Regions from separate parts of the Homo sapiens genome. Here region 2 is linked to region 1. Evidence: fine-mapped expression QTL. A gene starts in region 1. The other region holds a variant in brackets. All regions are shown on one strand. Distances are from middle to middle.

The links. PIP is the estimated chance that this variant, and not a neighbour inherited with it, causes the effect.
Region 2: its variant is fine-mapped to the expression of HIVEP2 in whole blood (INTERVAL, PIP above 0.99).

Annotation. Positions count from the first base shown.
Region 1 is chr6:142,942,876-142,947,263 of GRCh38, forward strand. HIVEP2 (HIVEP zinc finger 2) reads right to left here and starts at 2,301. Exons shown (of 10, transcript NM_006734.4): 1 at 2,224-2,301. It overlaps HIVEP2-DT (HIVEP2 divergent transcript), which reads left to right and starts at 3,614. Exons shown (of 3, transcript XR_001744397.3): 1 at 3,614-4,388. RefSeq lists silencers at 1,931-2,000, 2,141-2,240, 2,441-2,670, 2,901-3,530, 3,581-3,800 and 1 more.
Region 2 is chr6:142,909,231-142,913,618 of GRCh38, forward strand. All of the region lies in intron 1 of HIVEP2 (HIVEP zinc finger 2), which reads right to left. Among named protein-coding and RNA genes, the nearest start is that of HIVEP2, 34 kb to the right of the region's middle. RefSeq lists enhancers at 2,794-3,650, 4,283-4,352. The variant TA/T (reference allele first, on the strand shown) is at 1,909.

The sequences.
Region 1 (4,388 bases):
TTGTTTTATACCCGACCTATGCTCGACGCAAGAAATTGTCTCAATGTTCAAAAGATTCATCATTGTAATACATTTCTGTATATAAGAAATATACTGCATATTTCAAACCTAGTGGTCAAAGGGATTATGACACTTGAAACAAACACACTATCATTAAGTAAATACTGGTAAATCCCTTTCAGCTCACAATGCAAATGTACAGTTGTCATTTGGTACTATGACTCCTTAGGGTTCCACAGGGAATTTTCTCTTAATAATGAAAATGATACCCACTTTAGTCACAGAAAGGACATTTCTGTTCTGATAAACCATTTGGCCTATATCCTAAAAATCAAACCCAATCTACTCATTCCACAGTCTACTTCGTTAAAATTCTGCTTCTGGCACTCTTATAAGGTGAAAAAGCAATGAGACATTTGCTACATATGTAGCAAACATATGGGATCTATATGTGCAAATATTTAAAATAACTTGGTTTGCTCAAGGGCAAATATCACCAAATATTACTATATCACTGGAGGAAACGTTTCTAATAAAGTTAAATGGCCTTTTTCTAGGAGGACAGATCATTGCAAATTTAATTAAAATGGATCTTATTAATATTTCAAGTAATGTCTGGGCTTGATTATGCACTACAAAAGAAACAACTGTATTGAGGAGAAAAATCAATAGCCCTTGACTAGGGCTCTGGGTATGCTAGAAAAACACAGATCTCTTGTGAATTATTGAGGTCCAGCTTTAGGGTTGGGGGCGAGTACCAATATTCATTTGGAGGTAAATTGAGTTATTTTTAAAATGGCAGAAAAGGAAGGAGAAAAATCAGCTCAAATTTTCCATTATAATGAAAGTACAGGAAACAAGCCTTTCTATATTCATTTTAGGCCTAAATAACTCTGCAGAGAATAAGGGTTTTGCAATGTCAGTTGCACACACAACTTCCTGTGTGAATGCTAAGCCATTACAGGTGTCCTAAGGCCTCCAGTGAAACCTATTATCAAGAGATTCCTCTGGTCTCCTCGAAGTCATCCCCAGCGCCCCCCATCCGCCGCCCACACATTATTGCTTCTCTCCTCCAAGTGTCTTGATTAAGGACCCTCTCTCTTCTCCGCACTCCCGAGGTTAAAGTGCCCCCGTTCCCTTGGTGTAGCTAGTTACAAGCTTTCCCGTTAGGGAAGACTAGTGCCTGCAGTCCTTTTTAGTTAGATGCTTTTAAGTCAGAGATGAGAGGAGCCACTTGAAGAAACCCTCCTTCCCTTCTTCCTTTCCCCCACTGGGAACCAAGTCCCTGAAGGACAACACCCAGGGACGCTTCCTGACCTTCTATCCCCTCACCCAATTTGGGCTTGGAGGGTTGGGGTCGCATTTTCTCATGTCCTCTGCTGCACTGGATGTGTTATGTAAGAGGGACAGAACGCGGGAGGCACATGCGTATAAAGCGCACCGATCTGTGATAACAGCTGGGGTAGCAGAGCGGATCTGGAGTCCACCCCCCCCCCCCACCAAATACGACAGACCCCACACATGCACATCAGCACCCCCTCCCCCACACACCCACACACACACACACACACGCACACACCCAGAGCAATGTTTTCCTGTCTCACCCCTACCAGTACCAGAGGCACAGAATGGAAAGGCGGGGGGTGGGGGTGAAAGGAGGTGAAAGAGGAGGAGGAGCAGCAGCAGCACATCTGCTTTGATAGCAGCCGGCAGTGCCGCCGCGGCAGAGAGCCCCTCGTTAACCCCCTTCCTGTGGCTGCACCACGTCATGGAACATTCCCGGAACGGGCCAACGTTCCACCCACTTCAGGGAACAGACATAAAGGCGCAGACCCAGTTCCCCACAGTGCACAGCCCAAACACACATGTCCCTTCCCGATCCCCCGCCAGACGGACAGACAAACACGCATGCAAACCGCCCCCACCCGTCTCCACGCGCCCGGGTCCAGCCGGCAGCGGCCAGAGCCGCTCTGCAGCCGGTGCACCCGCAAGGCGAGGGCGCCTCCGCCTGAACCTTCCATCGAGACAGTCCCCTCCTTCCTCGCTTCCTTCCTTCGCTCCTTCCTTCCTTCCTTCCTTGCCCGGGAGGTAAAGGGAGTCACTGAAATGCCCAGAGCCAGCGCCTTCGCTGCGCTCGCTCGGCCGCAGGCCGGCGGCCCGGGCCTCGCGCCGCCAGCCCGCCCGGCCGCCTGCGCCGCGCGCCGCGGCCCCCTCCCCCGCTACCTGACAACGGGCCGCCGCCGGCCGCCGCAGCCGCAGCGGTGGCCGGGCCGTGCGCGCCGGTGCACGTCGCTCATTAGTAAGCAGGCACATTCCTGCCTCCAGCGCTCCCGCGCGGCCCCCTCCCCCCAGGACATTACGCAAAGCAGCCTCCCCTCATCTGCATAGATCCGCGGCCAGGGTATTCCCCGCATTTCCCCACGCGCCCGACACCCCTCCCGCGGTCTCCCCCATCCCCGCCCCCTCCGACCCTCACCCTCGGGCCACCGGGAAGGGGCTGGGGGCACACGCCGGGGAGCGGGGGACGGAGTTCGGCGGCGGCGATTCCAATATAAAGTGAAACAAGCTCCCAGCGCCGAAGGAGGCAGGAAAAACCCAGCGTCCAGGCCACTTACCGAGCCGAGGAGGGACCTAGATTCCCGCCGCTCCGCTCTCGCGGTGGCCGGTCCGCCCTCCGCGCACCCCGAGGCTGCACCCAGCACCCCAGACGCGAGACGTGGAGGAACGCTGTGAACGAGCCGGGAGACCCTCCAAGTTGCTCTGGGCTCCGTGGAGCGTCAAGGTCCAAGACACAACTTGGCAAAGACTTGTGCCACAGTCACCGAAGATGTTTGTGCGGAGACCCTCCTGCGGGGAACGACGGCGCTCGGCGGCGCCCCGCTCTCCTCCTCTCCACCCCCTCACCTCCAGCCCGCCTCCCGCCGGCCGCCCGCCTCCGGGCCGCGAGCCCCTCGGGCGGCTGTCAGCTCCCGGCCGCCGCCGGGTGACAGGGGCGGGAGGAGGGCGCGACGCGGCGGCCCGAGCCCCAGCGGGCGAGGGGGATCCTCGCAGCCGCGGCGGCCGCTCACCTGGAAAGTCACCGCTGAGGAGGAGGAGAAGGAGGACGGGGAGGAGGAGGGAGAGGAGGAGGGGGAGGAAACCCCCCTGGTGCCCTTGTTCTCGCTGCCGCGGCGGCCGCTCCTCGCCAAGGCTGAGCGTGTCTGGTGGGGGGTGTCTGGTAGCATTTCCTTAAGGACAGAGGGAGGGCGGGCGCGGAGGGAGGGAAAAGATCCCGACCGCCAGCCCAGGCTCCTCTTGCCTTTATTTATTTTTCTGACACTGTACGGAGATGGGCCCGGGGCAGGGGCCGCCGGGCTCAGGCGGGAGCCGCGAGGCCCGGGCCGCAGCTGTCTGCGTGCGGGAGCCGCAGCGGCCGCCTCCCCTCCCGGGCTGTGGACGCACCGGGTTATTCCTGGCAGCGCCTCCCCGAACAGAAGTTACTAGGAGGAGTGCGCGGCGAGGGCGGACGGGGGGAGAGGCGGAGGGAGGGAGGGAGGAAGAGGGAGAGACTCAGCCAACGACGTCATCGGATCCCCCAGCGCGTCCCAGGGAGGGAGGCTGAACCAGAAAAACCAGTCTGGAGCCAGTGAGCGAGAGAGGGATGTGCGGCGCGCGGGGCGACGGGGGAGGGAGGCGGTCGGGAGGGCAGGGCCGGGCCCCACGGCTGCCGCTGCGGGCGGGGAGATCGCGGCCGCGCACTCGCTCGGTCGGAGCGGGGAACTCCCCGGAGAGCTGGTCTCTACTTGTCATGCAAAAAAACTTGGGCATCTCTAGGAGCCTGAGAATTTCCTTTAAGGATGTGGAAACGTCCTCCGTCCCCACCCCTTCCCCATTTCCCAGAGAATCGTTGTCTGCCTTCCTGACGAACGGAATTGTATAATTAGTAGTGCCCTTAGATTTGGAACCAGTACTCCGGATCCCTGGCCTCTCCTCGCCCCCTGCCTCTACTCACAATTATGTTATCGGTCAAGAAAAGCAAAATCAGACTGTGGCTCCCGGCTGGGTTTCTGGAGCTTTGTAGGGTTTTACTAGCACTTTCCGTGCCCCTGCGGGCGCGCGAACTATTCACGTGCTCGAAACGCCCGGATTACCTTCCCTGAGGTCACTCACCAGGGTGCCCCCGGCACCCCCAGTTCGGGGACCGCGGCCCGCCCTCGCCAGGGGATTCAAATAGGTGTGGGCAGCGGCGCGAAGAGCAGCTGCCGGTTTCCTGGTGGGCCGCGCTGGAACCTCGGGGCGAGCTGCCACCTTCAGCCTGTGCGCTTCCCTCTCCACGGAAGGGACCGGAGTTGAAATCACAACCAACCCTGGGAGAGCGGGGCCGGGAGGCGGGGGAATCCCAGGCGAGT
Region 2 (4,388 bases), 34 kb before region 1:
ATTAGCTATACAGAAAGAGATAGCTTCAAATTGGTATACACAGATTTCTACTATCTATAGACAAAAATCTATCTGAACATTTTTCAAGACCTTAAAAGATGCTGTGTTTACATAGCAATGGTATAGTATACATTGGCAGATGATTCAAAATATTTTAGTATATATCTACATATATGAGTATTTATAATCTGAAAATTAAATCCCATGATTTTAAGACAATTTAAATATAAACTAGGCAGGGGAGAGTGCAGCAGTGTTAGAGAGGAGGTCACTGAGGAATGAATGAATATATATTAAGCATGTTTAATAAGGCTTTATACACCAACATTTTTTGAGATTACATATATCTAAAATGCAAAAAAACCAACTGCCTCTGTTTTTAATCAGAAATATCTCAGGGTCATTATCATAAACATAGATCACCATAGCAAACCTACTCATTTATTTATTTCCATTTACTAGGAAAATACTTAGGGAGCCTCTTCTATGAGTCAAGTACAACATTAAGTCCTGGAGATAACAGTATCATATGGGGCAGGCATGGTCTCAGCCCTAGTAGAACTTAGATTCTGAGTAGAAAGATCAAAAAATAGCTACTGTAAATTGGGGGAAACACAGTAACAGCTTCTGAAGCTACTGAGATGCTTACATTTGCTTACCCCTGCACTCTTGTTTCCTCCAGTGGCCTATATTTTGATCTTTAAGATCTTGCTTCTGATTTTTATAGTTTATCTATTTCCTTCTTCACTTTCAGGCTGTCAGTGATTACATTTGCAGTCAACATGCCATCCTTTACCAGTGACAATGTTTGACTTCCATATACTGCTCCTAATCTCTAGCCAATCAGATCATCAAGCCTATTAAAACTAAGCCTAAAATAAGGACAAACAAGCTCTGAGTGAAGGCTGAATAGGTATTTTCTACCATTGCAGTTTGATAAAATCATTTCATGCATTATCCGTTTCTTTCTGATGAGATATTTCTATTACCCAACTGACCATGCCACCCATTTAAGAAGATAATTTAAAGAAATGTTTTACCAACAAAATTTCCCACTCTTCTCTCATTCTCTTCTAAAATAAACAAAACAGGCCAGGCATGGTGGCTTGCGCCTGTAATCCCAGCACTTTGGGAGGCTGAGGCAGGCAGATCACGAGGTCAAGAGATTGAGACCATCCTGGCCAACATGGTGAAACCCCATCTCTACTAAAAAACACAAAAATTAGCTGGGTGTGGTGGCGCATGCCTGTAGTCCCAGCTATATGAGAGGCTGAGGCAGGAGAATTGTTTGAACCCGGCAGGCAGAGGTTGCAGTGAGCCAAGATTGTGCCACTGCAATCCAGCCTGGTGACACAGCGAGACTACGTCTCAAAAAATAAAAATAAAGATAAACAAAACAAAACAACAACAACAACAACAAACCTACACTTCTGCTTAGAAGCAAGATCCCTACTGCCAGAAAAGTCTTCTTTAAGTACAGTCCATAGAAATGGTATCTTAATATATAAACCACTGTTTCTCAAAGAGTAGTTCTCAGATCACCGGCAGCAGAATTACCTAATTTACCTCTTAACATTAAGGTTCCCTGTGCCTCACCTCAGACCTAGTGAATCACATGCGTAGAGCATGGGGGCCTGAATTTTTTAACGCTCCTTGAAAGACCATCGTGCATGATACAGCTTGAATCCACTGATCTAAATAACCAAAGAGTACACATTGAAAATGTCAGTCTGAGCCCTAAAGACTCAAGTCCTCTATTTTACTACCAGTCTGCAAAATTTAATGAATGCCACCCTCTGCAATGCACTGGATAAAATTAAGTTTAAAAAGTTCAAGACAATAAAGTTTAAAGGTCACCTCTACCCAGAGAGTTTCCACTTTAATATGGAAGACAAAGCACAAACACAT[TA/T]AAAAAAAAAAAAAAAAAAAACTTAAAAATAAGCACAAACAACATTTCAGGGGAGCCCAGTGAATAGAGGACAAACGTGCTGAGAGGGGCAGAGCCTAGGACTGAACAGAATACAGTTGGGATTCAGAAAGGAAGAATTCTAAAACAAGTTTGGGGCAGAATTTAAACATAGCAATTTTCAAGTGGGTCTCTAAAAAGGTGTGATGATTGCCATAGGGCATTTAAGATCAAGGAGAAAATATGTATAATCATATCTCTTGGTACCATAGTCAACACAGAAAGAGAAGTGTCCTGCAGGCTTATTAAAAAGATGAGATATTGGTTTGGGAAAACCTCCCTGAAAAGAAGGTTTTATAAACATATATTATCTTTTGAGGCAGACAGAGGAGGTATTGTTATCCCCAGATTTACAGACGAGGAGACTAAGAATCATCTGAGACCCTTTTTTGCAGGGTTCTTATTATAGGACAAAGCTGGTCCTTTCCTTCCATCAGGGACTCTTTGCTCAGCCTGACACTGCTCCCAGGAGAAGGATCATTAATTCACTGTCTCAGAAATGAGACAACAAGCCATTCAAAAACATATTTCTCCCTCTGTCCAGTTCAAGAAACAATCAGGGGAAATGTGTGTGAGTGTTTGTGTGTCTGTGATGCGTATGTGTGCATGATATGTGTGCATGCATGTAGATCTATGCATGAGTGTGTGTGTCGAGGGTATCACTGACTAATTTAACTGACCGCTCATCATTTCATAATTAATGAGTTACTGTATTTTAGTGTCTAATGGATGTTTCAGTGCTAGTACTTATGGCTAATGATACTGAAAAGCAAAAGCCAATCAAAGTCTCTGACTTTGTGATTTGATTTGTGATCAAGATAATTATCTGAAATCTCCATACTGGGTTAGTGACAGCAGGTTTCCTCTGGCTGTGCTATCCAGTATGGTAGGCACTAGCCATATGTGGCTGCTTAGGTTTAAATATAAAATTAGCATTAAATAAAATTTAAAAATTAGTTCCTCAGCTGCACGGCCACATTTCAAGTACCCCAAAGCCACTTGTGTTTAGTGGCTACCATATTGGCCAATGCAGTTCAATTGGAGAGCACTGCTCCAGAGTGTCAGTCTTTCTGAAAAGACAACTTCAGGCCTCAGTGTATACAACCATTGTTATTTACATCTAGTTCCAAACACATGCTAATAACAGTGATCGAACTTTTGTCCCTCCCACTAAGGCTTCTCAAGCCCCTCTAGTAGAATTCATATATTTCTCCTCAGAAATCCCTTCCCCCTTCTCCTCATCACACCTCTCTTCTCGTGGCTGTTTTCATCCTGGCTTGATAGCTACGTGCACATCCATCTCCTCTACAGTCAGCTTCTCAAGGCCAGTGGGTCATGTTCAGTTACCAGTAATGGTCCATGGCCTTTTAGGAACCGCGTCGCACAGCACCAGGTGAGTGGTGGGCAAGCGAGCATTACTGCCTGAGCTCCACCTCCTATCAGAGCAGCGGTAGCATTAGATTCTCATAGGAGCGTGAAACCGACTGTGAACCGCGCATGCGAGGGATCTAGGTTGCATGCTCCTTATGACAATCTAATGTCTGATGATCTGAGGTGGAACTGTTTCATCCGGAAACCATCCACCATCCCCACACCATGGAAAAATTCTCCTCCATGAAACTGGTTCCTGGTGCCAAAAAGGTTGGAGACTGTGAGTTTAAAGAATGGTAAGGTTTTGTGATCATTCCTACGAGGTAGATGCTTAGGTGGAATTATTGCTTGTGCTGCACATTTATAAGGAGAAGAAAAAATCAAATGATTTTAGAAGTGGGTATGAAAATGTACTTAGCAGACATAAATCAGAAAAGCACTGGGCTGTATTGGAGGTATTGTTATCCCCAATTTACAGACGAGGAGACTAAGACTGTCATCAGCCAGCACACAGAGGATGGCCCCTTACCACAGCAGGGAGACAAAACCAGGACTCATGGTGACCTATGGGAACCGAACTGCTTAGCTTAGGATGAGCTTGTCAAAAAGTTGTATCAATTCATTTCTTACTCATGCTGTTACAACATCTTCAAAAACTCAAGCCTTGGGATGCTAATGAGAACTTCTACTTTCACTCTGACGACTTCTGAAACACGAAAAACGTACATTTCCTTCATGCTATCATTTGGATAGTTTCAAAGTACCTGAAGTATGAACAATATCTGATTTTTTCAATAAACCAGTTTGAGGGGGAAAACCCATGGATCAGGGCACACTGGCTGTCCCCATGAAGACAGAAAATACTAAAAAGGATTGAAGAGTTATCACACTGGTACTTCACTGCTCACTGCTTTCTTTTGCCAGCTTCAATGCCATACTTAACTAAGTATCTAATTGCCATACTTAACTAAGTTTCTAGGCACTTTCCCACAAGCCTTGGAAGAAAGAGGTGTCTACAGGGCCACCATAGACCAGAGGAAAGGTAAAACAC